Linked DNA regions of Homo sapiens. The protein of the gene in region 4 interacts with the protein of the main gene of each other region in a biochemical or structural test. Each region holds a gene or a part of one and is shown on either strand. Other genes may lie near its edges.

Region 1 (7,032 bases), on a different chromosome or scaffold from region 4:
TGGAGGCAGGGCAGAACACCCCTCAATCACATCTGAAAACAGCACACATGGTGGGGCTGGAAATCAGTGGGCCCAGTCTCCCTTCCTCCTTCCATCTGCATCAATCTGTTTCCATCGGTGCTTCAGAACCAGCGCCTGTTTTAACAGTCTGGCATCAGAATCTTATTTTAAATGCATCAAAATTCACTGTGAGAGCCAGCACTCCGGTCGTGGGAACAAGACCCTACGGAATTCCTCAGTGGGTCTTCAGGGGCCCCATGGGATGGGGCTGCAGTATGGGTACACAGACTTCACCAGTGTGAAAGCTGAGGTCATCAGCCATGGAGGCTAGAGGCCTGGGCTGCTTGGGAAGCATCCCAGGAGCAGGGAGCTAATGAGTAGGGATGGGAAGGAGGGAGGAGGAGGAAGGGGCTGTCGTTCTGCTAATCAGAGCGGACAACCCTGACCTGCCTCTGTTCTGCTGTTGACCTCTGATGTGACCACAAGGTTGGGGACTAACAGTTTGGAATGGGAGCTAGAATTCAAGGATGAGAAGTCTTCCTGTCCACTGCCTCAGAGGCCTGCTTTCCATTCCTAAAAATGCAGGATGGCACAGCCAGATGGCCGCTCTGACCGTGGAGGCCAATCAGCCCATTTTACAGATGGGGACACTAGAGCTTAGGAAGGGACCTGTTCCTAGGCCACACTCACTGCACAGTCAGAGATAGGGACGGGACTTTCTCTGCTGTTCCACACTGCTTCCCCTTGGAGGAGCAGTCTATGAGAGCAGCGGTTCTCAAACTTGAGCATGCACCAGCATCACCGGGAGAACCTGTTAAAACACAGACTGCTGGGCCCCACCCTGAAGATTCTGATTCCAGAGGCCTGTGGTAGAGCCCACAGGTCTGCATTTCTAAGAAGCTCCCAGGGGATGCTGATGCCGCAGGTCCTGGACTACATGCTGAGTAGTGCTGGGCACTCCTTGGGACGGCTGAGGGTGAGGGCAGTGCAGGAAGAGCCAAGGGCCATGCTGTGAGGGGTCTGGTGGCCTGAGGACCAAAGAGCAAAGCTGTGGCCAAGCAGAGGTGTCTGTGCAGCCAGGAGGAAGGAAGCAAGCTTTGGAAGGTCAGGCTTTGGAAGCAGGGACATGCATGGAACATCAGTTTCTGTCTTTGCTGATGAGGCCCCTCTGGGATGAAAGGAGAAGGGAACAGAGTTGGCCTCTGGGCAGGTGGAGGGTGGGGGACCCTAACCTCATGAGGGGCAGTTTGGTTTGGAAGGCACTTTGAGTTGCCATGGGCTGCCAGGGCTGTAGCCAGCATCACCTCAGACTGTTCTGTGTGGGAGCTGTCAGCAGGTGTCCAGGGGCAGGGGCTGGGGTCAGGGCAGAGCTGTAAGGACACCCAAGGTAGTGGCAGGTGGGATGGATGGGGCAAGACCAGGGCCACCTAGAGAGCCCAGAGGTCATGCCTTCCTCACTCAGGACCTCCCTGGTTCTAGCTCCTGGAAGGAGGGGCTAATAGGAGTCTGGTGCACACCTAGGGTGATGGGTGCTCAGCTTTGGAACCTTCTCTGTAGGATGTTTAGAGAAGGGAAATTTGGTCCCAGAGAAAGGGAACTGATTCTGAACCAAATGACAACTGAGGGCTGGGTACCAGGACCTGGGAATGCTGTGATGGGTGGGGCCTGGCTCAGGGACCCCATCCCTCTCTGCCCACCAGAGACTCCAAGCTGGTCACCCCCTCCTCTCAGCTCTGCTGGGAGGCCCTCTCTGCCAAGCCACGGCCAGCAAGTGGGGTGGAGACTCCTTCTGCCCGTGCCAGCGCCGGACCCTCCAACAGGCCTTCAAAGTAGGTGCCCAGAGCCTGCAGGTTGAAAGCAGGCTGGGCAGGGGGCAACGTGGTGGTCTGCAGGCTTAGATAGCGGCTGTACTTCTTCAGGCCCCCCTGCCGGTCACGGCGGTGTGCACTCAGCAGCTCCATGAAGCTCACGTTGTGTAGGGCCAGGAGGCGGGCCTCAGCCCGGGGCAGCACAGCTGCCTGCACCAGGGGCTGCAGGGAGGCAAAGCACTGCAGGCTACTGAAGGGGTAGACATGCTGGGCCAGCTGGGGGCCCGGGGAGACCTCGAGGAGGCGGCACAGGTCACGCATGGCCAGCACGGCAGCCATGGCGCTGCGCTCGCTCATGTTTCTCGCCAGGTAGGTCTGGGCCAGGTTCTTGAGTTTGAAGCTGCTGGCCCCGGGCACACGCTCCCGGATGAGAGGCAGGGCAGCCAGGAAGCCCGAGATGGCCTCCTGGAATTCCCACAGCCTGTTAATGTCCTCCAGGGCCCGGAAGAAGTTTGGGAGGCCAGGCCCCCACAGCTTGTAGCAGGCCAAGATAGGGCGGCGCATGGAGCTCAGAAAGCTGAGGAAGTGCTGCAGCCCCACCTCCAGGGACACGGCCTTGGAGTAGATGCTGAAGAAGGCTTCAGGCTGGATGACCACGCGGAACTTGCTTTCCCGGTTCACCGCAGCCAGCTGGCTAATCTTCTGGGCTGGGCAGGAGAGAAGGGCAGGGTGAGGACCCAGGGTCACAGAGAGCTCTGGGGTGGGAGCAGGGGGTCCTCTAGGGCTGCTGACTCACCATCTAGAGACCTCACCTTGGGGTCTGCTGGCAGTAGCCACACATCAGCCCCCAAATGCAGCTCTGATCCTGGTTGTGGTGGGATAGCAGTCAGAAGGGGAGGCTCGGCTGCCCTCCAAACACTTTGTTCACCAGCTGGGGATCCAGCTCTCCCCTCCTCCACTACCGGCCCCAGAGTTGGCCAAACCCCATGGATACAGGTCCCTCCTGTCTTCTATCAGCCTCAGCCACCTATACTAGAGATCCCAGGCTGCTTGAACTTAGCTCTCCATCCCATGCTCCTTCCTCCAATCCCCTCAAGGACCCCAGCCCAGTCAGAGCCCTGGGACATAGAAAGCACTCCACTCAGAGCAAGGCCAAGAGCCTCCCACTGAGGTCTGCAAATGACTTTTCTGTACCATGAAAACACTTGCTGTTTCTGTCTGGCTGGGCTAGCCCCAATGTTGAGTCCATGCCACAGGGTAGGGCCTGGGGCTCTGGCTCAAGGAGGGGCATTTGCAGAGCCAGGGCAAGCACTGGAGGAAGTAGAGGGGCTTCCAGGATAAGGGGTCTGATCCCTCTGTGACCTTGGATCTGTGGGCAGCCCTGTGCAGCCACCTGTGGGATTGGCCCTCTACTCAGAAACGTGTAGCACAGCCAGAGGCCTTACTTGGATGACAGGGCTCACGGCAATGAGCTCACGCATTGTGTTTCTGTCTAGGAGTGTGTTCCCCAGGCTCTCTGTCTGAGAGAAGAACTGGTCAGAGGTGCACTTGTGGAGGCATCTGCCTCTCTCGCACACTCAGGCACTGGATAAGGCGGACATCTTTATTCAAGCCAGCAAATGACACGCCAGGAGCCCAGGTGAGCCGGAGTGCTCTGCCCAGCCTGGCTGCAGTTGTTGGCCAGAGCTCAGAGCTCTCCTGGGCCTGGCAGATGGCTCTGCCTGCACTTCTTTTTGGGACTCAGAGACTAAATTAGAAAGGGGTGGGGGTAGCCCCAGGAGAACCCACTTTCATTGTCAATCTTGAGGTCAAAGAAAACCAGAGGTCTGTCTTCTGCTTGGGGGTCAGCAAGGTTCTCGTCCAGGACCCTGAGGGTGCTGGGGCCTTCCAGCTGGAGGTCACTGGACTCACTGCTGCTGTCATCCAGCTCTCGGGAGGACTGCAACACAGAAAAACCAAGCGTCAGGGATTCAGAGGGCCAAGGCAAGCACCTGTGCAGAACACTAGCAAGCTGGTATAGCTGGGAGCATCTGCGTGCACATGAAGGAGGGTGTACCACTGGGAAAGGGGACGTGTGCACAAGAGAAGGTATGTGTGCATGAATGGGTGTGAACTGGGTGTGTCACATGTGAGGGTTACATGTATGAACCAGGGCATACACCCTCATGAGTAGGGGAGGAAGGGTGACACACACAGGTTGTGAACGTGCATGTGTGGGAATGAATCCAAGTGCTAAATCTGTGTGTGCATGCACAGTTAAGTGTGAGCTGTGAACCTGCGTTGACACAAGTGTATGAAAGTGTGAGAGAAAATGCCAGTGGGTGTGTGCATGAGTGTGCTGTGCTGCTTATGGAGGCTCAGGGAAGGAGCCATCTGCTATGGCAGGCAGGACCTGAGATGTCTGCTCCTAATTTCATCTTTCTGAGCAGACTCAGAAGAAACACCAAAACTTGGGACGGGAGAAAGAAGCCTCATCTTGAACCCCAGATGATTCTTTGGAAGGGGTCGGGAGCCTGCCTTTTCTTGTCCCCGAAGTCAGCCGAGGTGCCAGTGTCCTACACAAAGGCGAGGGGAAGGACTGCTTGGCCTCCTGAAGGCCACATCTAGGTGGACACCCAGGTCCTTGGCAGTGAGAGAGCAGTGGAGGCTCTTGGCATCTGCCCCAGCAGCTTAGAGAAACCTGAGTTTTGGGAGTCCTTCAGGTGAGGCGTTCTCTCCTGTCCCAAGGTCCTGGTGGGAACACTGTTCGAGAAGCCATGGGGTGGGGAGCCAGAGGATGAGGGAAGGGCTCCAGCTCTGAGATTTTCCCAAGGGACTGGGACTACAGAGGGAGGTGGAGCCTCTGATGGTAATACAGAGTTAATTGCTTATCATCTGCTCAGCTGCCAAGCCCAGATGTTTAGTCTTTGATGACCAACTTGGAACCTCCCATGAATGCCACCTGTGGACGTTAGCCAGAGACCAGCAAGGAAGAGACATGGACAGGATCACAGGGCCAATTGGGAGCATGGCTGGGACAGAGTCCAGGGCAGGCCTTGGGTTTTTCCTCTTTATGGACTGCCGCTGGCTTCTCAATGAAGTTGGTGTCACCTGGTGCTAAAGCCTCAGTTAATTCTGGCCTCTGGCTAATGTCCCTGGCCTAGGAGGCAGCACATTTCCCCAGACCCTTCCAATGCCCAAGTGAAACATCTGCTTCCAACCAAGCTTCAACTGAGAGAAAAAGCGTTTCCACCCACAAGTAACCTAAGATGTGGTGGGTTTTTGTAGGAGTGGCTGGATTTCACTGGATTTGCATTTCACAGCCCTGCTCCAGGCTCATCAGCTTTCTGCCAGTTATTGTCAGAAGCAGACACTCACTATGAATCCATCTAGAGCTGGCTTTGCCTCTTCATATCCAGGGATCTAGTCAGAGAGTCTGCCCAGCGCCTCGCATCTCCAGATCCTCATTCAGCCACGCTGTCAAAAGCTGATTTCACACGTCTTGCTCCGGGTGAGCCCACACTGCTGTCTCGCCTTTCCAACTCGGTTTCCTCCCTGTAAGGAGCCTTCTACAAGGCGTCTTCCTAGCTTGTAGCTGGGTGGCTGGAGACTCCACCTTCTCCCGCTTTGGGAGAATCCAGTTGTTTCCTCTCTCCAGGCTTCACTGGGCAGCAGCGCTCTCCCACAAGCTGGTGGAGGGGCTGGGCTCCCCTTCTGGGTCCTCCCTGGTTCAGATCCTTGGTGCCAATAGCTGAGGCTGAGTCCATGCTGCCACCCACTGACATGGCACACAGGACTTTCTCTTTTTCGTTCTTCTTCCTGCTCCAAACCCAACTGGAAATGCCCCTTTGTGTTCCTGAGTGCCTCCACAAAGCTCGGGGCAATGTCCTCGGCCTTAGAACCAGTCTTCCCGCCTTCAGATCTGCTCTTCCAAGAGGAGAGCTCCCTGGAGAGCCACAGTACTGTCTCTTTAGGCCACCCCTCCCATCGTTACAGCAGGGTCATTTATGGCAGCCACTAGAACCTCGTTTTTAGAGCCTTCCATTGTCCCGGGGCCAGGGAAATGTCCTTTGTCCTAAACTTACTCGAGCTGCCTTCTCTAAGAAACCTCTACTGTCTCCTTTAATAAAAGGACACCCCCTTTCCACCAAGCTTGTTAATGGAGGAGAGGCTGGACCTTTCAGCCCTGACTCACTTCCTCCAAAATTCCTCTTGCCCTTGGGGACTTCCATAAAGTATGGCCACCCATGGAGCTGGTCTCACTGGAACTCCAGCCAGCTGTAAACCCAGAATTCTCCCCTGCTCCGCCTTAAACTCCAGCATCACAGCTGGGGAGTGCTGACGCATTTAAACAAGACTTTCTGAAAGACTCAGGTTTGCCAGCAGGGCCATCAGACATAGTGGCCTGGTGCAGAACATACTCCCCTCCCTGCTCACTAGGGGAGACTCTCCCATTCTGCCCCCAGGCCCCACACCTTGGCCTTATTCCGCAAATTAGGATAACTGGGTGTCGGGGGAGCATAGAGAGGGACAGTCACTGGAAAAGACTTAGATTTGCTTGGAAGAGAAAAGGAAGGGGGACAGAAGAAAGAAGATGGGAAACAGAGCCTTGAGCCTGCGTGTGAGGACCGGGAATCAAGGGGGAAAGCTTTGCTATGCAGTGAGAGATGCCAGGCGCCAAAGAAAAGGGGAAGAAGGACTGAAGAAGTGCTGCTGGGGTTATGAGCTGGATTCCCTTTAATGTTCTTTCAAAAGATGCAAGTAAATACTGGGATTTATTTCTTTATTATACTTGGTTAATGGACATTGTTTCTTTGAATGCAAAACTGTGTTCAGGCTGAGCCTCGTGAGAGCCAGGATTTTTTCAGGATATACATGCAACTTGGATACACCTGCAATCTGGCTCATGAGCTACATCCATCTCACTCCCCTTCCTCATAGATTTCACGGCCTGAGCAGGTCAAGTGCATTCTAACTCAACACAGCAGGTCTAACAGTCGTCCCAAGCATGCTCAGAGGAAGTGGCTGGATTGGCATTGTAATCACACTCCAAAAGTCCAGGAGGTACATCAGGGAAGATCCAGCCTCTCCCCTCCTCTGCGGTATTACACCCTGGTATGAAAATGTCACCTGCATTCAAGACTGCCACATCTATAAACAAATGAGCAGCATTCCTCTACCACAGACATGCAATGAATCCCCCGATTCAGTGGTTCTTGACTTTGGTTAGGCATTCATAGCTTTA
Region 2 (7,619 bases), on a different chromosome or scaffold from region 4:
TCCCAACAGAATGCTTTGGCTGGTCAGACTCATCTTTTTACCAAGTCCAGCCAGCTTTTGTCTCTATAACTGTGCTTTGATCATCCAACATTTCCCACCCATTCTTCAAGGTACTGCTCAATTCCCTAACCATTTTGTTCCATGCTGATCTCCCTTTTCTCAACCAGCTTCTGCACTTACCATATAACTTGGTCTAACTATTCAGTCTAATTGTCTGTATCACAGAAGGTAATATACAAAAGCATGAGACTCATTATTTGGGTCCCAGTCCAACAATATTGGGTACTTTGAGAATAGAGACTATGTGTTCTTCCGTAGCTCTGAAGAAAAGTGAATTTGCCAGGGAAAAACAATGATTGTGGACATAAAACAACAAAAACAAAGACGAACTTTCCAGATTCATCTTTTTCTACGGTCTGCCCATTTGCCACTGAAGCCACTAGAGAGGTATTTTTTGCCACATGCAGCTGTGCATTTGAAGCATTTAGGAAAGATTTGCCTGTCATCGTGTTGTAATTATTACTTATAACAGTTTTCATGGTTTGTTTTTGTCATTGTTAACTTCATTATGAAGAATGTAATGCCCACATGATTCATTAAAGTATAATTATAGTTAGCACAAGTTATTAACTCATTAGGCAAGAGACAGTTCAGAAAGTAAACTTAATAGGATGGGACACAATCCTTAGAATTGTAACATTTAAATAATCCTTGAATTGCAGAGAGAATAGAGACCTATTTCACAGTCAATAAAAAGGGGGAAAAAAAACTCTTTGAAATTTGGATTATTTCAAATTGTCATTTGAAACAGTTGAACATTATTCAATAAATCATAATATCCTGATTTAAAGATGCAGTTACTGTTCCAAATTAAATTCCCTGATGTTCTGAAGAAATCTTACGGAATCTGACATGCTTGAGGGTAAGGAATATTCAACGACAAAGGGCAGCAAGAGAAAATAGCCTGGTTCACAACTCTGGAATTAATTCACTGTAGCTGAAGCTTAAAGGGGGTGGGGGAAGGAAGGCTGGCACAGTGGCTTACGCCTGTAATCCCAGTGCTTTGGGGGGCTGAGGTGAGAGGACAGCTTGAGCCCAGGGATTCGAGACCAGCCTGGGCAACATGGCGAAACCCTGTCTCTACAACAAATACAAAAATTAGCCAGGCGTGGTTGCCTGGCCTGAAGTCCCAACTACTCGGGAGGCTGAGGTGGGAGGATTGCCTGTGCCCAGGAAGTCAAGGTTACAGCAAGCTATGATCGTACCACTGCACTCCAGCCTGGGCATGGGAAACCCAGTCTCTTTATTTAAAAAAGAAAAAAAAAAGTCTGAATAAATCAGTCCAAGATATGAATCCAAACTGGAATGATCAGATACCATCATCTTACTGTGGCAACTCAACCACATTTCAGCAATTCACACTACAATTGCTCCTGGATACTCATCTCATTATCATTTTTTTAACTTCCAAAAGCATATTTAAGATTATTTTGTGTTTCCCAATTTACAGCCCAAAAGGACTCAAGACACTTATTTGAGAGAATCCCAAAATGTCTGGGTGAGACACAAAATGATACGCCACCAGAAGTCTCAGGGGACACTGGGCACATGAGAACTAAGGCTGGACAACAGCAGGTTATGAAGAAAACACAACGATTCCCCTTTGTCAGCTTCCTGCACCTGACCCTGAAGGCCGCCATGGGTAAGGCCGGGTCTCCGGCACATCTGCACCATGGGCACGCAACAGAGTCGCACAGTGCCTAGCTAAGCGCGGATGTGCTAAATCAAGGCTGAAAGAAAGCCTGGCCCTGCCCTTAGGCATCAGGGATTTTCCAAGTTTGATTCTCCTGTCATCAGAAGCATCCCGGGAAGGATGCTCGTTACACTGCAGATTCCAGCCAGGCGCGGAGGCTCACGCCTGTAATCCCAGCACTTTGGGAAGCCGGGAGGATCACTTAACGTCAGGAGTTCAAGACCAGCCTGGCCAACACGGTGAAACCCCGTCTCTACTAAAAATACAAACAAACAAACAAAAAATTAGCCGGGCATGGTGGCGCCCGCCTGTAAGCCCAGCTACTCGGGAGGCTGAGGTGGGAGGATCGATTGAACCCGGGAGGTGGAGGCTGCAGTGAGCTGAGATCGCGCCACTGCACTCCAGCCTGGGTGACAGAATGAGACTCAGTCTCAAAAATAAAAATAATAGGGGCAGGATGCGGTGGTGCACGCCTGCAATCCCAGCACTTTGAGAGGCCGATGCAAGCGGATCAACTGAGGTCAGGAGTTCGAGACCACCTTGACCAATATGGTGAAACCCCATCTCTACTAAAAATACAAAAATTAGCCGGGCGTGGTGGCGGACGCCTGTAGTCCCAGCTACTCGGGAGGCTGAGGCAGGAAAATTGCTTGAACCCGGGAGGTGGAGGTTGCAGTGAACCGAGATCGCGCCACTGTACTCCAGCCTGGGTGACAAAGCAGGACTCCGTCTCAAAAAAAAAAAAATAATAATAAAAAATAATAATAAAATGCAGATTCCTGAGCCCCAAAGTTGACTACACCAATCAGGATCTCCGGGGTTCGCGAACGTGCATTTTTACAGCCCCACCCCCCTCCAACCCTCGTCCCCTTCCCCATCCCCCATCCCCTCCACTACCAGGTCTAGCGGCTTCAGGCCCGGGCGTGCGCAGGCGCGTCCCCCGCCCGCCGCCCACCCGGCCGTCCCGCTCCCTGCGCCGCGCACCTGAGGCAGTCGTTGTCTCTCACAAGGCGCGCGCTCTCGGCGGGGGGCAAGAGCCCCCCCTCCAGGTAGAGGCCTAGGAAGGCCCCAGAACTGAAGCCGAAGCGCTGGCGGATGAGACTAATGAGATCTGTGACGACTCGGCATCTGTTCAAGTCGACCAGAAGCCAGAAGGCCGTACAGTGCGGGGTAGCTGGCGGCGGGTAATCAAATTGAAGCCGTAGCCTAACCGTCTCGGAAGCTGCCATCTTGCTTGGTGCTCAACGGAAGCCGAGAGATACCACGGGGCCACCGAGAGGCGTGCTCGGGCGGCTCGCCCCCGCCGGAGCCTTTGGCGTGTGCCACCTAGTGGTGAAACCTGGCTACTACAGGCTGCGTCTAGGCGAGAACTCGGAGCGTGGTTGATTTCATTCAATTTTGTTCACGGCAGGGCTGAGGAAGGGAATAAGTGAAATGCCTTTATTACATTTCTACTGGGCGCTATGTAGGGTCTCCTAATTAAGGCAACTCTCTGGATAAATAACATTTCTCCTCAGCAGTAGTCTTCTAAGATATTTGCTCATCGACGTGAAAGATTTTTATAAAACAATCCTAACACATTTCGCTGACAAAATTTTTCATCATGATGAGTTGAAAAAGATGTAAGTCCTAGTGTGTTCTCAATGTTGAAATTTTGAAATAACACTGTTAATCATTCTTCCAAATGTATCCAGTGGAATATAAATACCTTAGCCTTTTAATACCCACCACCAAACAAAAATGTCCTTGCATTTCTCACCAGATAAATAAATCAGTATTTACATTATTTCTTCTATTTTTTGAACTAGAATTTACATTTCTCCACATAATATATATTAACTCCTTTAATTTTCATAACAAAAGTTAGGAATTATGAACTGTTATCCTTATTTAGAGGATTTAAAAAAAACAAGGTTCAGAGAGTTTAAGAAGTAACTAGAGGCCAGGAGCAGTGGCTGACGCCTGTAATCCCAGCACTTTGAGAGGCCAAGGTGGGCGGATCACTTGAGACCAGGAGTCTGAGACCACCCTGGCCAAAATGGTGAAACCCCAACTCTACTAAAAATATAAAGATTAGCCGGGTGTGGTGGCATGTGCCTATAATTCCAGCTACTCGGGAGACTGAAGCAGTAGAATCGCTTGAACCCAAGAGGTGGAGGTTGCAGTGAGTCAGGATCGTGCCACTGCACTCCAGCCTGGGCAATAGAGCAAGATTCTGTCTTAAAAAAAAAAAAAGGAGTAACTTCCCCAAGTTCACTAGACTAGTTAAGTTGTAGATACCAGGGAGTCAGTAGATGAATTGAAAACAAAATTTTTTAACTGAAAGTAAGGGTTTTTGGATTTTCTTTTTTTAGAGTCTTGCTCTGTCACCTAGGCTGGAGTGCCGTGGTGCACTCTGCCTCCCGGGTTCAAGTGACTTCCCACCTCAGCCTTCCTAGTAGCTGGAACCACAGGTGTGAGCCACCAAGCCCAGCTAATTTTTGTATTTTTTGTAGAGATAGGGTTTTTCCATGGTGGCCAGGCTGGTCTCGAATTCCTGAATTCCAGCAATCTGCCTGCCTTGGCCTCCCAAAGTGGTGGGATTACAGGCATGAGCCACCACCTCCGACTAAAATCAAGTTTATTAGAGAATTAAAGGAATAAAAGAATGACTACTCCATAGACAGAGCAGCGAGCCCATACTATAAGTATACTCAGTCAAGTATACTTATAGTTACTTCTTGACTGTATGCTAAACAAAGGATGGATTATTCATGAGTTTTCTGTATCCCTAGGAAAGGGGCAGGGATTTCCCTCAGAACTGAGGGTTACTCCCCTTTTACACCATACAGGATAACTTTTGGGCATTTCCGGCTGGGCGCAGTGGCTCACCCCTGTAATCCCAGTTTCTCCACATCCTGACTACCATTTGGCATTGTCACTATTTTTTAGTCATTCTGGTAGATGTGTTGTGGTATGTTGTGGTTTTATTTATTTGTTTGTTTGTTTTGAGGCTGGGTCTCATTATGTCTCCAGTGCTGAAGTGCAGTGGCGTGATCACAAGGCTTACTGCAGCCTTCACCTCTGAAGCTCAAATGAACCTCCCACTTCAGCCTCCTGAGTGGCTGGGACTACAGGCATGCACTGCCATGCCCTGCTAAATTTTGTAATCTTTGTAGAGACGGAGTTTTGCCACATTGCCCAGACTGGTCTCAAACTCTTGGGCTCAAGCTATCCTCCCACCTCAGCCTCCCAAATATTGGGATTACAGGCATGAGCCACCATGCCCAGCCTCTTGTGGTTTTAATTTGTATTTTCTAATGGCTAATAATGTTGAACATTTTTCCTGTGTTTATGTGCTTCTTCAGTGAAATTCTCTTCAAGTCTTTTACATCTACTCTTATTAGATTGTTAAATTTTGAGAGTTCTTTATGTATTCTAGATAGTAGTACTGAGGCAGGAAAATAGGATCTGGAGGCAGGGAACATAAGGCCAATTCACACTTCAGCTGTGACAGGAAATATCCTCTTCATTTACATAGGGCATACGAGGAGTAAATGACTTTCTAACTTTACCTCATCCTCTCCATTTACATAGGACATACACCAAGAAACCAGTGGAAACCTCTGGAGGGTATTTAAGCCCCCAAAAATTCTGTAACAGGGCCCTTGAGCCCCTATGCTCGGGCCTGCTCCCACCCTGTGGAGCGTACTTTCATTTTCAGTAAATCTCTGTTTTTGTTGCTTCATTCTTTCCTTGCTTTGTTTGTGCGTTTTGTCCAATTCTCTGTTCAAGATGCCAAGAACACCCTCCACCAGTAACAGTACTTTGTCAGATATGTGGATTGCGGATTATTTTCTTTGACTCTGGAGCTTTTTTTTTTTTTTAATCATTCTCTTAATAGGGCCTATCACAGACCAAAAGTTCTAAATTGTGATGAAGTCTGGTCGATCAATTTTTTCTTCACTGCTACCTCTGCCTCCCAGGTTCAAGTGATTCTCCTGCCTCAGCTGCCCGAGTAGCTGGGGACTACAGGCACCCGCCACCACGCCTGGCTAATTTTTGTATTTTTAGTAGAGATAGGGTTTTACCATGTTAGTCAGGCTGGTCTTGAACTCCTGACCTCCGGTGATCTGCCCACCTCGGCCTCCCAAAGAGCTGGGATTACAGGCGGGAGCCTCTGTGCCCAGCCTGTTTGTTTTTTGTTCTGTTGTCCAGGCTGGAGTGCAGTGGCAAGATCATAGCTCACTGCAGCCCCTACTTTCTGGGCTCAAGCAATCCTCCCAGCTCAGCCTCCCAAAGCAGTGGAATTACTCGTGTGAGCCATAGCCTGAGTTAATTTTTGTGTAAGAGTTATATCAGCGTTCATTTTTGTTTGTTTGCTTGCCTCTTGATGTCCAATTGCTCCAGTACTATTTGTTAATAACACTATATGTCCTCCATTTTGAATCTTTTGAATGTTTGTCAGAAATCAGTTGGGCATATTTGTGTACATCTATTTCTGGATTCTCTGTTCTGTTTCATTGATCTATATGTCTTTCCCTCCACCAACACCATACAGTCTTTTTTCTTTTCTTCTTTTCTTTTTTTATTGAGAGGGAGTCTCACTCTGTTGCCCAGTCTGGAGTGCAGTGGCGTGATCTTGGCTAACTGCAACCTCTGCCTCCCAGGTTCAAGCAGTTCTCCTGCCTCAGCCTCCCGAGTAGCTGGGACTATAGGTGCGCACCACCACGCTAGACTAGTTTTTGCATTTTTAGTAGATACAGGGTTTCATAGGTGTACACCACCATGCCAGGTTAATTTTTGCATTTTTAGTAGATATAGGGTTTCACCATGTTGGCCAGGCTGGTCTGGAACTCTTGACCCCAAGTGATCCACCCGGCCTCCCAAAGTGCTGGGATTATGGGCTTAAGCCACCGCGCCTGGCCCTTGTTTTCTTTTAGAGACAGATTGCGCCCACAGTGCAGAGCAGTGGTGTGATCATAGCTCACTGTAGCCTCAGACTCCTGGGCTCAAGTGACCCTCCCAGTTCAGCTTTTCAAGTAGCTAGGACTACCATGTCCATTAATTTTTAATTTTTTTGTAGAGATAGTGTTGGACTATGTCTTCCAGACTGATCTCAATCTCCTGGCAGGTGCCACCACGCCTGGCTAATTTTTTGTATCTTTAGTAGAGACGGGGTTTCACCATGTTGGCCAGGCTGGTCTTGAACTCCTGACCTCAAGTGATCCGCCTGCCTTGGCCTCCCAAACTGCTGAGATTACAGGCGTGAGCCACTGTATTTATGCTTTGCCCTAATTGCTTTAGCTATTCTACTTCCTTTTCCTTTTCTTATAAATTTTAAAATAATGTTGTTTGTGTATATCTCCAAAAAATCTTGCTGCGATATTGGTAGAAATTGTGCTACACCTATATATTAATTTGGTATGAATTGACATCTTTAGGATGTTGAGTCTAAATCCATGAACACATTATGTCTTTCCATTTATTCAGCTTTCTGATTTCGTTCATCAGCGTTGTGTGGTTTTAAGCATACAAATCCCATACAGGTGTTGTTAGATGTCCGGACTCCAAGTGCCAGTTCCTTCCTGGTGTTCAGCCACTGCGTTGATCCTCCACAGGGGCCTGCCATGCACTGCTCTGATGAGGCATTCCACCAGGGCAATTGCCTACCAGGGACTGCTCTCAGGATCCATGTCACTCAAGCTGGCTGGAGTCCCCCGCAGGGATGCTCCACAGGGCAGGCCTAAGCTACCTAAGGGACTGCCTCAACTGTCCGTTAATCACCTCGCTTCCCGGTCAGGGAACCAAGAAATGTAGCAGAACAAGCCACACACAAAACCCCTCAGACACCGAGTTAAAGAAGGAAGGGCTTTATTTGGCCAGG
Region 3 (7,032 bases), on a different chromosome or scaffold from region 4:
ATGTAGCCTAGCAGAGGCAGTTGTCACTCTATGCATCAGGGTTACCAACCAACATGTCTTCTGGTGGATCTTTAAAGCCTTACGCTGTGGATCGTCAAACCAATTGCTGCAACCATGGCACCTTCCCTGTGGTTTGCTAAACAAAATAGGTGGTAACTGCACAATACCTTTTAGCCAGTTTATTCTACTAGAAATGCTTCCTTCAACCTCAATTTTCAAGATGACTAGCAATCCTTCCTGACAAGGAAATTGGAGAAACTTGCTATATTCTTTGGTTTACTATATACTGTTCTCATTTATAATCCAGAAAAAGTCATAACTAATGATACAAAAGTCACTAGTACCTGGTATGAAATGCTTATGGTGTTTGCAGTTAAAATCCCTAGATCATGAATACACTTCTCAGATTGTTTTCTTTGGCGATAATGACAGTAATTTTCGGCTATGAACTATCTGTTAAGTCACTTGCTTGAATGCTGACTCTCCAAAAACAAATCATTTTTACGTATATAAATAATGGAGGGCCAGGTCAGATGAGAGAGGATTAATAATAAGCACTATATATAATAGGCCCACTAACTATAGTCATAAAAAATGACCTGAATGAATTATATGCTTTCTACTTGTGGGCAATGGCAAAGAGTAGGATAAGTTTTGTTAAACATGTATTTCCTAAATTGTCAGAACCTTATAAACTTCAAAGGGGAAAGTCAATGGCTAAGGATCTTTCCTAGAAAACTTTTGGGATTAGGCATTTTGTGGATGTATCTTCATATTAGAGCAAATACAAAATATAATTCTGTACCAGGTACCACATATCATATCTTTGAAATGATGTCTTACAAACATGGCTTGACTGAACTGGCTATTATTTACTTCCCTGAAAAGCCTTTCTTTACTATGACTACCTTTTCCTGTGTCAAATTACATCTCTGCAACAGAGGACTTGGATCATTAATTATATACCAATAGCAACTGTGTGGCAGTAACACCAGAATTTAATCTATATAAATGCCAAGAATCAACAAAAGACATGCCAACCTCATATTTTTCTTTTTCTTTTTTTGAGATGGAGTCTCACTCTATCACCCAGGCTGGAGTGCAGGGGCCCGATCTCGGCTCACTGCAAGCACCACCTCCTGGGTTCACACCATTCTCCTGCCTCAGCCTCCTGAGTAGCTGGGACTACAGGCACCCGCCACCACGCCCGGCTAATTTTGTTTCTGTATTTTTAGTAGAGATGGGGTTTCACAGTGTTAGCCAGGATGGTCTCGATCTCCTGACCTCATGATCCACCCACCTCAGCCTCCTAAAGTGCTGGGATTACAGGTGTGAGCCACCATGCCTCACATTTTTCTAACATCAAAACTCAAGCCTGAGTATCTTTCAAAAGCAAATATAGAAGCCTGAAGAGACTGATAAATCTTATGCTTTATGAAAGGGGGCTGTCATTAATTATGGACAAAGGACACTATGTGGTATTTATAGCATGTCAATTTCAAGTGGTGCTGTTGCTAGTTCTGCCACTAAACTACCACGTCAATCGACATTTGTCCCAGTTCTATTCGAAGGAACTGCCTACTGTGTACCATCTGACTCTCAACATTGTCCCCTTCTTCTGTAGGGTGGATGGAGATCTGAGAGAGCACAATGCAATCCATGGCTATGTATGGGAAAAGCATAAATGTTTCTGTGTGGTACCCAAAAGCTCAGAGTTATATCCAGTGGAACTTGTGAGACAACAATGGATAATGATACATGTATATGATAATAAGTAAGGCAGTATGAATCTCATTTAGCTGATTAATGGGAAAATTTAAAGTGTTACCTGAGCATGGAATTTGTGAGCGCAAGGCAAAACTGAAAGATTTTCTGGAGACAGATTCTCATGACAGATCACACAAGGCTCTTCTTCTTCCTCTTCCTCATCCTAGGGAAAATACAGAAAATGTTAAATTTAGCTCATTGTTTTCTCCCAAATCTAAATGTGTTCAGAATCAAAAATTTCAGTCTCACTGGATTACTGGCTCCTTCCCATGTGGCAGGACCCTGTGAAGTGAGTGGCCTCCAGGCTGGTTTTGGGGGCTGGGCAGCATCAGGCTGTGATGGAGAATGACTAGGTGAAACACAATTAACATTTGACACTGATTTTCCTTGACTCTGAAAATAAGAACATAATGTTTATTTTTTCAGAATTATCCTAAAACAGTAAGAGCTGAAACATTAGTACAGAACGGGGTATAGTAAGAACTAGCAAAAGGGTAAATAATCAGATTTGTGAGAAATCTTGAACAAAATGGTGGCAATACTTATATACTCAGAGCTAGGTAAAAACAAAAATAACTCTATACATTCTTTTAATTAAAATAAATCTTTCAAGAAAATTAGAAAATCTCTCCCTCTTTAGACTCATTCAAAGAAACTAGAGCAAATTTCAAGGAGGTCAGTTTTATTCTAGAATGATTAGGTAACAGGTATTTCAAAAAGACTTCTGATATCATTTGTTAAGTTGAAGTTGTTATTTACTGTTAATAGATGATTTAATATGATTACAAGTTACTGATTTTCTGAACAGGTTATGGAGATATTTAAAACAGTTAACTACTAGAGTTAAGGGCAGAGAGATACAGGTTTTTTGGTTGTTTTTGCATTTTACCTGAGACTTTTTGGGGTCAATAAACTGGGAAATCTTGCAAACAATTTCATCAAATGTCAGTTCAGACAAGGATTTTCCATAAGCATCCTTCAATTTCCGTAAGAAATCTGTAAGTTCCTTTCTGCAAGAGATCAAGGAAAGGAAAGGGCAGTAATGATTTTCCTTAGTACCTTTGAGGATGTACCCACCAAAGGAGATATAAAATCCTATCGCATGATTGATATGTAGCATACAGACAGGACTCTTTAGGTCTTTGATCTAAAAAAGTGATCACAGGTCCATCTGCATTTATCTTAAACCAAAAGGAAAACTCCTAATTGTGTTCATTAATGATACTTAATGTTTTCATGAGTGATAAAGTTTAGTACTTATTTTCTTTCCAAAAAGAGACTTCGTTTTTGAGAGCTCACTAGGTGAAAATTAAGTTTATCCACTTATTTATGCATTGGGTTCTTTATACCATCTCTCAAGTGGTTTCTTGCTCAGGATAACATATTTATTTTTAACTATGTTGCTATTGGTTTCTCTCTTCTTTATCAGTGTTAATAGTTGTACTTTCGTAAAACTCAGAAAACAAAGATTAAACAGAACAGGAAAGCAAGGGTTAAAAATCACATTAATTATATAATGAAAGAACCCACAATTATTTTAATTGATATGTTCCTTTTTAATTCCCAAGATCCATTGATCCAAAGCCTGCATCTACAGTTTTGATGGGACAAAGTAGAATGAAATATTTTTGTTTCCCAAATGAAGTGTCATGTCATCAGCCTTATGCAACTACCTTTGATTTATAATGTTTTTATACATATTTATAACAACTGTACTAGAGTTCTATTTTATTATCTATTCACTATTATGAAATTTATAAAATTATAATTTAATAATGAAGTGTGCCAGTATATATATTAAATGTTTGTATTGAAATAAAAATACTTGTGAAAAGTAGAATTATTTCCTTAGATATGAGTTGAGATAAAAGAAACTTCATTTGTGTAGGAATATAATTAAATATCTTTCTACTAAAGGTAGACTGTGAAAAGCACAGTAAAGTTATGATTTCTTGCATTTTTAGTGTGTTCTCCAACAAAGAAACTATAAGGACCCTCAAAATTAAGGAAATTAGGAAATTAAATCCTAAAGATGTTTGGGCTTATATAGCATACAATCAACTTAAAATTCACTTTGGAGATAGGTTAAGATAATAATGGCAGTTAGTGCCATTAAAATTGGGTAAGTTTACATCTAGTTGTACTTTTAGTAAATGAGCATACCTAAATTTAAAGTTATTCTCTCATGATTTAAGACAAGTAACTTTTTAATGAAGAGGTTCACCATTGAACACTGTCTCTTCTTGGTAAATTTCTTTTTCCTTACCAAGGTCAAGGTAAGGAAACATCTGTACTTTTTTTGTGTTTGTTATGTTTCTCTGAAATGTTTCATTGCCACAATTATGGCTATGAAAACTGGAGAATATGATCTGTACCCACCAATAAATAAAAACTAAGGTACCTGGTTTGCTGTGGAAAGGCAGTTTTCAGCCTGTCTGTAATTCTCTCCCAATTCATGATGGAGGGATCACTCCGCAGACCTGCACTGGGAGGCACAGCGTCTCCCACAGGCGCTGGCAGAGCCCAGGCTATGCCAGTCATCTGTAAGAGGCAGAGAGCTATAGCCCAGCAGGTTTAATTATTAAGAAGTGACATTCCTATACCTCAGAAAATGGGTACAATGAAGAAGCGTACTGGCATACACATTCAATTTTTACAGTTTTTCTCTTAATATTTCTAATTGTTTGTAACTATTTTAAACTTATTTTAAAAATAGGACAAAGAAAAGGGTAGAATGAAGAAGAATACTGGCATACACAATCCCTTTTAGGGTTTTTCTCTTAACTAATACAAACAATATTTCTAACTGTTTATAAATATTTAAACTTATTTTTAAAATAGGACATGCTTGCTTCAGTAATTACATACATGTACAGCAAAACATGAAGGCTGTTTACTGCTGTTTCTCTTTTAACAGTGAAAACTGAAAAAACCTTACATCTATAGAGAAATGAATAAATTATGGCACATCTAATCAAGTTTTTAAAAATAGAACTGTATGTCTGGGCATAAGAGATATGCATGAAATATGATTTTTTAAAAAGTCTGTGGCACAGTATTTATGATACGACTTCCTTTTACATTAAAAAATTTTAAATGCATATGTATACACGGAGAAAGGTCTGTAAATTACAATGCGTAAGAAGTGATTATTTCTTAGGGATCAATTGCACAGTAACTTTGTTTTCTAATGTGCTTACATTTCTATATTATTCGCATTTTGTGATTAGCATATATACCTTTATAACGAGAAAGTAAAGTTACATTTTTCAAACAACCAAATAAAGATGGGAATACTACTAGAACTGCTCTGCCCAATGTCTCATCAATGTTGTAGACAAAAGTGGTGCAGAAGTTGTAGTGACATGCAGCCATGAAACCATCACTTTTCTCCATATTTTATGGTAGTTCCTTCTTAAGATTCTAATTAAATAATATAATAACAGAGTATTTTTGGAGTGCTCATCTGATTACTAAGATAATTATGACCACTTGCACCTTTTATGTAAGGCTCTAATGGGTTATTTTCAAATATTAGGTTATTATTCATGAAAAACTAGCAACTACTAACAGTCACTGTAATAATTTGTACAGAGCCTAAGAAGTGAGGGGAAGCAGAATATTTCCCAGAAATCTGAATTTGCTTCTATGTCAAGCTTTACCCCAGGAATCAGAAAGTAATCTTATTAGGAGATTAAGGTATTTTAATGTTTTTAATAAAATTTTATCATAGTTTCTTATAGAATGGTGGGCAAGCAAATTGCAAGAGTTAACACTGTAATATCATGGTAGTAAAAAGATGTGTTACTTATTTAACATATTAAGGACTATATACAGATTTGTTTATAGACAGGTAGCCTCGACAATAATAAGCAGAGTCCACCTGACCATGTATTTCAAAAGGAAACTGTTAGCAATATATGGGGAGCAGAAAAGAAAAGAAACAATTAATTGCACCTAATTATACTTATAGGAAAATCAAGATTAGAGAATTTTCATTAATTACATCTAACATCATTCTTTTGGAAGATTTTCCTTTAATAAAAAACCTTCACCAAGATTACAACTGATAATTCTGGTAATTTCAAATTTATATGTTCCTTCTTCAGGTTTGGATAAAGTTTATCTGGCTATTTGTAGCTGGGAAGATTTATAACTTTACAGTTTATGTTTCAAGGTGATGCTATTTATAGTCTGTTTATAGATACACTTGAAATACTGTCCTACTATGTGTGTGTACGTGTGTGGAAATAAAATTTTTCTTTAGCTTTGTGCCATAATATAGTTTGTTGTGACTTGGCTTCTTTGCTTTTCAATCTTCCCAACAACCATGCCAAAAAAATCTATTAAAAATGTCAATTTACCCTGCATTGTTGCCTATTTCAGAAGCAATACTATAATTTTAAGGATTCTCTAGTATAAAAACATATTTATCTTTGTATCCCAAAACGAAGCTAGTATCAGTTAAATAATATATGTAACACCCTGAGCACAGTGCTTCACAGGAAGTATTCATTCAATTATCACCACCACCCCCATCATTATCATATCAAATGAATGAACAAAATGAAGATACTCATTCAGGAAGCCCACTAGAGTAATAAAAAAACTAATTAACATCTATTCCACCAAGAAAGCTTTTACCAGGGGGGCTCTAGGTTGGCCAGTTGCAGAGACGACTCCCGGGCAAACTGCAGGCATTTGAGGAACAGTAAGTATGGGTCTAAAGAAAGATTCTTTCACAAGAGGTCTTCCTAAGAACTGCTGCATCTAAAATAGAAAATATAAACAATAATAAACAACACCCCCCCCCACATATTTATATATTTATTTAGGCAATCATCTAAATTCATACAGCAATATGGCGGGGGGAACACTCATTTGAACTCAAGATACAAAGCACATTAGAAACAATGTATGTCAGAAAATGAAACATATGAATATTGGAAAAACAAAGGGCAATGAGATATATTGAAAACAGCATTGACAAAGACAGAAAAGAAATAGCTTCTAGTCACATTTCTCTCTACGTAGCTGAATAACCTTGGAAACCAATTTCCTAATCTATAAAATGAGAGGGTTGGATAAGGTAATCATTAAGGTTCCCTCCCAACTGTAATCACATAGAACTATGCAAAGGAGATTCTCAGGAAGTGTTATCTATGTTGGTGGGCAATATTGATACTCAGAAATTTCACAGAACAACCCAAAGTTATCCATAGAAAATATTTTATATTGGAGGTAATACTTGATGAAATTTTGACT
Region 4 (4,881 bases):
TTTTGGCTTTTTCCTTGTTTGGTTGATCTTCCCCATTCTGGCCAGAGCAGGGCTGGAGGGAAGGAGCCAGGAGGGAGAGAGCCTCCCACCTTTCCCCTGCTGCGGATGCTGAGTGCTGGGGCGGGGAGCCTTCAGGAGCCCCGTGCGTCTGCCGCCACGTTGCAGAAAGAGCCAGCCAAGGAGACCCGGGGGAGGAACCGCAGTGTCCCCTGTCACCACACGGAATAGTGAATGTGGAGTGTGGAGAGGAAGGAGGCAGATTCATTTCTAAGACGCACTCTGGAGCCATGTAGCCTGGAGTCAACCCATTTTCCACGGTCTTTTCTGCAAGTGGGCAGGCCCCTCCTCGGGGTCTGTGTCCTTGAGACTTGGAGCCCTGCCTCTGAGCCTGGACGGGAAGTGTGGCCTGTTGTGTGTGTGCGTTCTGAGCGTGTTGGCCAGTGGCTGTGGAGGGGACCACCTGCCACCCACGGTCACCACTCCCTTGTGGCAGCTTTCTCTTCAAATAGGAAGAACGCACAGAGGGCAGGAGCCTCCTGTTTGCAGACGTTGGCGGGCCCCGAGGCTCCCAGAGCAGCCTCTGTCACCGCTTCTGTGTAGCAAACATTAACGATGACAGGGGTAGAAATTCTTCGGTGCCGTTCAGCTTACAAGGATCAGCCATGTGCCTCTGTACTATGTCCACTTTGCAATATTTACCGACAGCCGTCTTTTGTTCTTTCTTTCCTGTTTTCCATTTTTAAACTAGTAACAGCAGGCCTTTTGCGTTTACAATGGAACACAATCACCAAGAAATTAGTCAGGGCGAAAAGAAAAAAATAATACTATTAATAAGAAACCAACAAACAAGAACCTCTCTTTCTAGGGATTTCTAAATATATAAAATGACTGTTCCTTAGAATGTTTAACTTAAGAATTATTTCAGTTTGTCTGGGCCACACTGGGGCAGAGGGGGGAGGGAGGGATACAGAGATGGATGCCACTTACCTCAGATCTTTTAAAGTGGAAATCCAAATTGAATTTTCATTTGGACTTTCAGGATAATTTTCTATGTTGGTCAACTTTTCGTTTTCCCTAACTCACCCAGTTTAGTTTGGGATGATTTGATTTCTGTTGTTGTTGATCCCATTTCTAACTTGGAATTGTGAGCCTCTATGTTTTCTGTTAGGTGAGTGTGTTGGGTTTTTTCCCCCCACCAGGAAGTGGCAGCATCCCTCCTTCTCCCCTAAAGGGACTCTGCGGAACCTTTCACACCTCTTTCTCAGGGACGGGGCAGGTGTGTGTGTGGTACACTGACGTGTCCAGAAGCAGCACTTTGACTGCTCTGGAGTAGGGTTGTACAATTTCAAGGAATGTTTGGATTTCCTGCATCTTGTGGATTACTCCTTAGATACCGCATAGATTGCAATATAATGCTGCATGTTCAAGATGAACAGTAGCTCCTAGTAATCATAAAATCCACTCTTTGCACAGTTTGATCTTTACTGAAATATGTTGCCAAAATTTATTTTTGTTGTTGTAGCTCTGGATTTTGTTTTGTTTTGTTTTTTAAGGAAACGATTGACAATACCCTTTAACATCTGTGACTACTAAGGAAACCTATTTCTTTCATAGAGAGAAAAATCTCCAATGCTTTTGAAGACACTAATACCGTGCTATTTCAGATATGGGTGAGGAAGCAGAGCTCTCGGTACCGAAGGCCGGGCTTCTTGAGCTGTGTTGGTTGTCATGGCTACTGTTTCATGAACCACAAGCAGCTCAACAGACTGGTCTGTTGCCTTCTGAAACCCTTTGCACTTCAATTTGCACCAGGTGAAAACAGGGCCAGCAGACTCCATGGCCCAATTCGGTTTCTTCGGTGGTGATGTGAAAGGAGAGAATTACACTTTTTTTTTTTTTAAGTGGCGTGGAGGCCTTTGCTTCCACATTTGTTTTTAACCCAGAATTTCTGAAATAGAGAATTTAAGAACACATCAAGTAATAAATATACAGAGAATATACTTTTTTATAAAGCACATGCATCTGCTATTGTGTTGGGTTGGTTTCCTCTCTTTTCCACGGACAGTGTTGTGTTTCTGGCATAGGGAAACTCCAAACAACTTGCACACCTCTACTCCGGAGCTGAGATTTCTTTTACATAGATGACCTCGCTTCAAATACGTTACCTTACTGATGATAGGATCTTTTCTTGTAGCACTATACCTTGTGGGAATTTTTTTTTAAATGTACACCTGATTTGAGAAGCTGAAGAAAACAAAATTTTGAAGCACTCACTTTGAGGAGTACAGGTAATGTTTTAAAAAATTGCACAAAAGAAAAATGAATGTCGAAATGATTCATTCAGTGTTTGAAAGATATGGCTCTGTTGAAACAATGAGTTTCATACTTTGTTTGTAAAAAAAAAAAAGCAGAGAAGGGTTGAAAGTTACATGTTTTTTTGTATATAGAAATTTGTCATGTCTAAATGATCAGATTTGTATGGTTATGGCCTGGAAGAATTACTACGTAAAAGGCTCTTAAACTATACCTATGCTTATTGTTATTTTTGTTACATATAGCCCTCGTCTGAGGGAGGGGAACTCGGTATTCTGCGATTTGAGAATACTGTTCATTCCTATGCTGAAAGTACTTCTCTGAGCTCCCTTCTTAGTCTAAACTCTTAAGCCATTGCAACTTCTTTTTCTTCAGAGATGATGTTTGACATTTTCAGCACTTCCTGTTCCTATAAACCCAAAGAATATAATCTTGAACACGAAGTGTTTGTAACAAGGGATCCAGGCTACCAATCAAACAGGACTCATTATGGGGACAAAAAAAAAAATTATTTCACCTTCTTTCCCCCCACACCTCATTTAAATGGGGGGAGTAAAAACATGATTTCAATGTAAATGCCTCATTTTATTTTAGTTTTATTTTGATTTTTATTTAATATAAAGAGGCCAGAATAAATACGGAGCATCTTCTCAGAATAGTATTCCTGTCCAAAAATCAAGCCGGACAGTGGAAACTGGACAGCTGTGGGGATATTAAGCACCCCCACTTACAATTCTTAAATTCAGAATCTCGTCCCCTCCCTTCTCGTTGAAGGCAACTGTTCTGGTAGCTAACTTTCTCCTGTGTAATGGCGGGAGGGAACACCGGCTTCAGTTTTTCATGTCCCCATGACTTGCATACAAATGGTTCAACTGTATTAAAATTAAGTGCATTTGGCCAATAGGTAGTATCTATACAATAACAACAATCTCTAAGAATTTCCATAACTTTTCTTATCTGAAAGGACTCAAGTCTTCCACTGCAGATACATTGGAGGCTTCACCCACGTTTTCTTTCCCTTTAGTTTGTTTGCTGTCTGGATGGCCAATGAGCCTGTCTCCTTTTCTGTGGCCAATCTGAAGGCCTTCGTTGGAAGTGTTGTTTACAGTAATCCTTACCAAGATAACATACTGTCCTCCAGAATACCAAGTATTAGGTGACACTAGCTCAAGCTGTTGTCTTCAGAGCAGTTACCAAGAAGCTCGGTGCACAGGTTTTCTCTGGTTCTTACAGGAACCACCTACTCTTTCAGTTTTCTGGCCCAGGAGTGGGGTAAATCCTTTAGTTAGTGCATTTGAACTTGATACCTGTGCATTCAGTTCTGTGAATACTGCCCTTTTTGGCGGGGTTTCCTCATCTCCCCAGCCTGAACTGCTCAACTCTAAACCCAAATTAGTGTCAGCCGAAAGGAGGTTTCAAGATAGTCCTGTCAGTATTTGTGGTGACCTTCAGATTAGACAGTCTTCATTTCCAGCCAGTGGAGTCCTGGCTCCAGAGCCATCTCTGAGACTCGTACTACTGGATGTTTTAATATCAGATCATTACCCACCATATGCCTCCCACAGGCCAAGGGAAAACAGACACCAGAACTTGGGTTGAGGGCACTACCAGACTGACATGGCCAGTACAGAGGAGAACTAGGGAAGGAATGATGTTTTGCACCTTATTGAAAAGAAAATTTTAAGTGCATACATAATAGTTAAGAGCTTTTATTGTGACAGGAGAACTTTTTTCCATATGCGTGCATACTCTCTGTAATTCCAGTGTAAAATATTGTACTTGCACTAGCTTTTTTAAACAAATATTAAAAAATGGAAGAATTCATATTCTATTTTCTAATCGTGGTGTGTCTATTTGTAGGATACACTCGAGTCTGTTTATTGAATTTTATGGTCCCTTTCTTTGATGGTGCTTGCAGGTTTTCTAGGTAGAAATTATTTCATTATTATAATAAAACAATGTTTGATTCAAAATTTGAACAAAATTGTTTTAAATAAATTGTCTGTATACCAGTACAAGTTTATTGTTTCAGTATACTCGTACTAATAAAATAACAGTGCCAATTGCAGATGTGTGTCTTTGCCTTCTGTTGGGTCCTCAAGGAAGAGGCCAGGAAAAGAGTGCTAATTCCTCCTCCTTATTGACCCCCGCTCACGAGTTCTCCCTGGGTAGGTCGGAGGTAGGGAGGTGTGACATGAGGCATTGCCTTCGCTGCTAATGTTTTGGGGGGAAGAGTACGTGTGAGATGAGGTTCTAAGATAAAAGGCACACAGCCACACCTGATGTCTTGGTTTCTTCAGTTCATGTTTATGCCTCCTAGCTGAACACTGCTGTTCACAAGAGGTATACTTGTCTTTAAACATGTGGTAGCTTCATGCGCTCGTGTGGCATAATCTATACACTCCTTACAGATTTGCTCTAAACTGGTTAGTGGTCTGTAAGTGGAAAATTTATTTTTACTTCCTGTAATTCAAGCTCATTAGAAATTCAGCGAGCAGACCGGGCACAGTGGCTCACGCCCATAATCCCAACAGTTGGGGAGGCCGAGGCACAAGGCCTGCTTGAGCC

Evidence for each region.
Region 1: of the proteins of ATXN1 (region 4) and PML, one has a biochemical effect on the other in vitro, tested with the Homo sapiens proteins (one study listed by BioGRID).
Region 2: the proteins of ATXN1 (region 4) and COIL form a complex in vitro, tested with the Homo sapiens proteins (2 studies listed by BioGRID).
Region 3: of the proteins of ATXN1 (region 4) and DZIP3, one has a biochemical effect on the other in vitro, tested with the Homo sapiens proteins (one study listed by BioGRID).

What each region holds. Positions count from the first base shown.
Region 1 is NC_000015.10:74,039,704-74,046,735, reverse strand, and holds part of PML (protein PML), read right to left. Parts: intron 3,748-7,032; coding exon 3,597-3,747; coding exon of another isoform or gene 3,556-3,596; exon of another isoform or gene 3,398-3,555; intron 2,516-3,397; coding exon 1,728-2,515; 3' UTR 1-1,727.
Region 2 is NC_000017.11:56,958,038-56,965,656, forward strand, and holds the start of COIL (coilin), read right to left. Parts: upstream 3,014-7,619; 5' UTR 2,983-3,013; coding exon 2,738-2,982; intron 1-2,737. UniProt on the Homo sapiens protein: Component of nuclear coiled bodies, also known as Cajal bodies or CBs, which are involved in the modification and assembly of nucleoplasmic snRNPs.
Region 3 is NC_000003.12:108,683,721-108,690,752, reverse strand, and holds part of DZIP3 (E3 ubiquitin-protein ligase DZIP3), read right to left. Parts: intron 6,538-7,032; coding exon 6,412-6,537; intron 4,326-6,411; coding exon of another isoform or gene 4,309-4,325; coding exon 4,169-4,308; intron 2,778-4,168; coding exon 2,657-2,777; intron 2,161-2,656; coding exon 2,017-2,160; intron 1,931-2,016; coding exon 1,829-1,930; intron 1-1,828. UniProt on the Homo sapiens protein: E3 Ubiquitin ligase proteins mediate ubiquitination and subsequent proteasomal degradation of target proteins.
Region 4 is NC_000006.12:16,298,612-16,303,492, reverse strand, and holds the end of ATXN1 (ataxin-1), read left to right. Parts: 3' UTR 1-4,381; downstream 4,382-4,881. UniProt on the Homo sapiens protein: Chromatin-binding factor that repress Notch signaling in the absence of Notch intracellular domain by acting as a CBF1 corepressor. Binds to the HEY promoter and might assist, along with NCOR2, RBPJ-mediated repression. Binds RNA in vitro.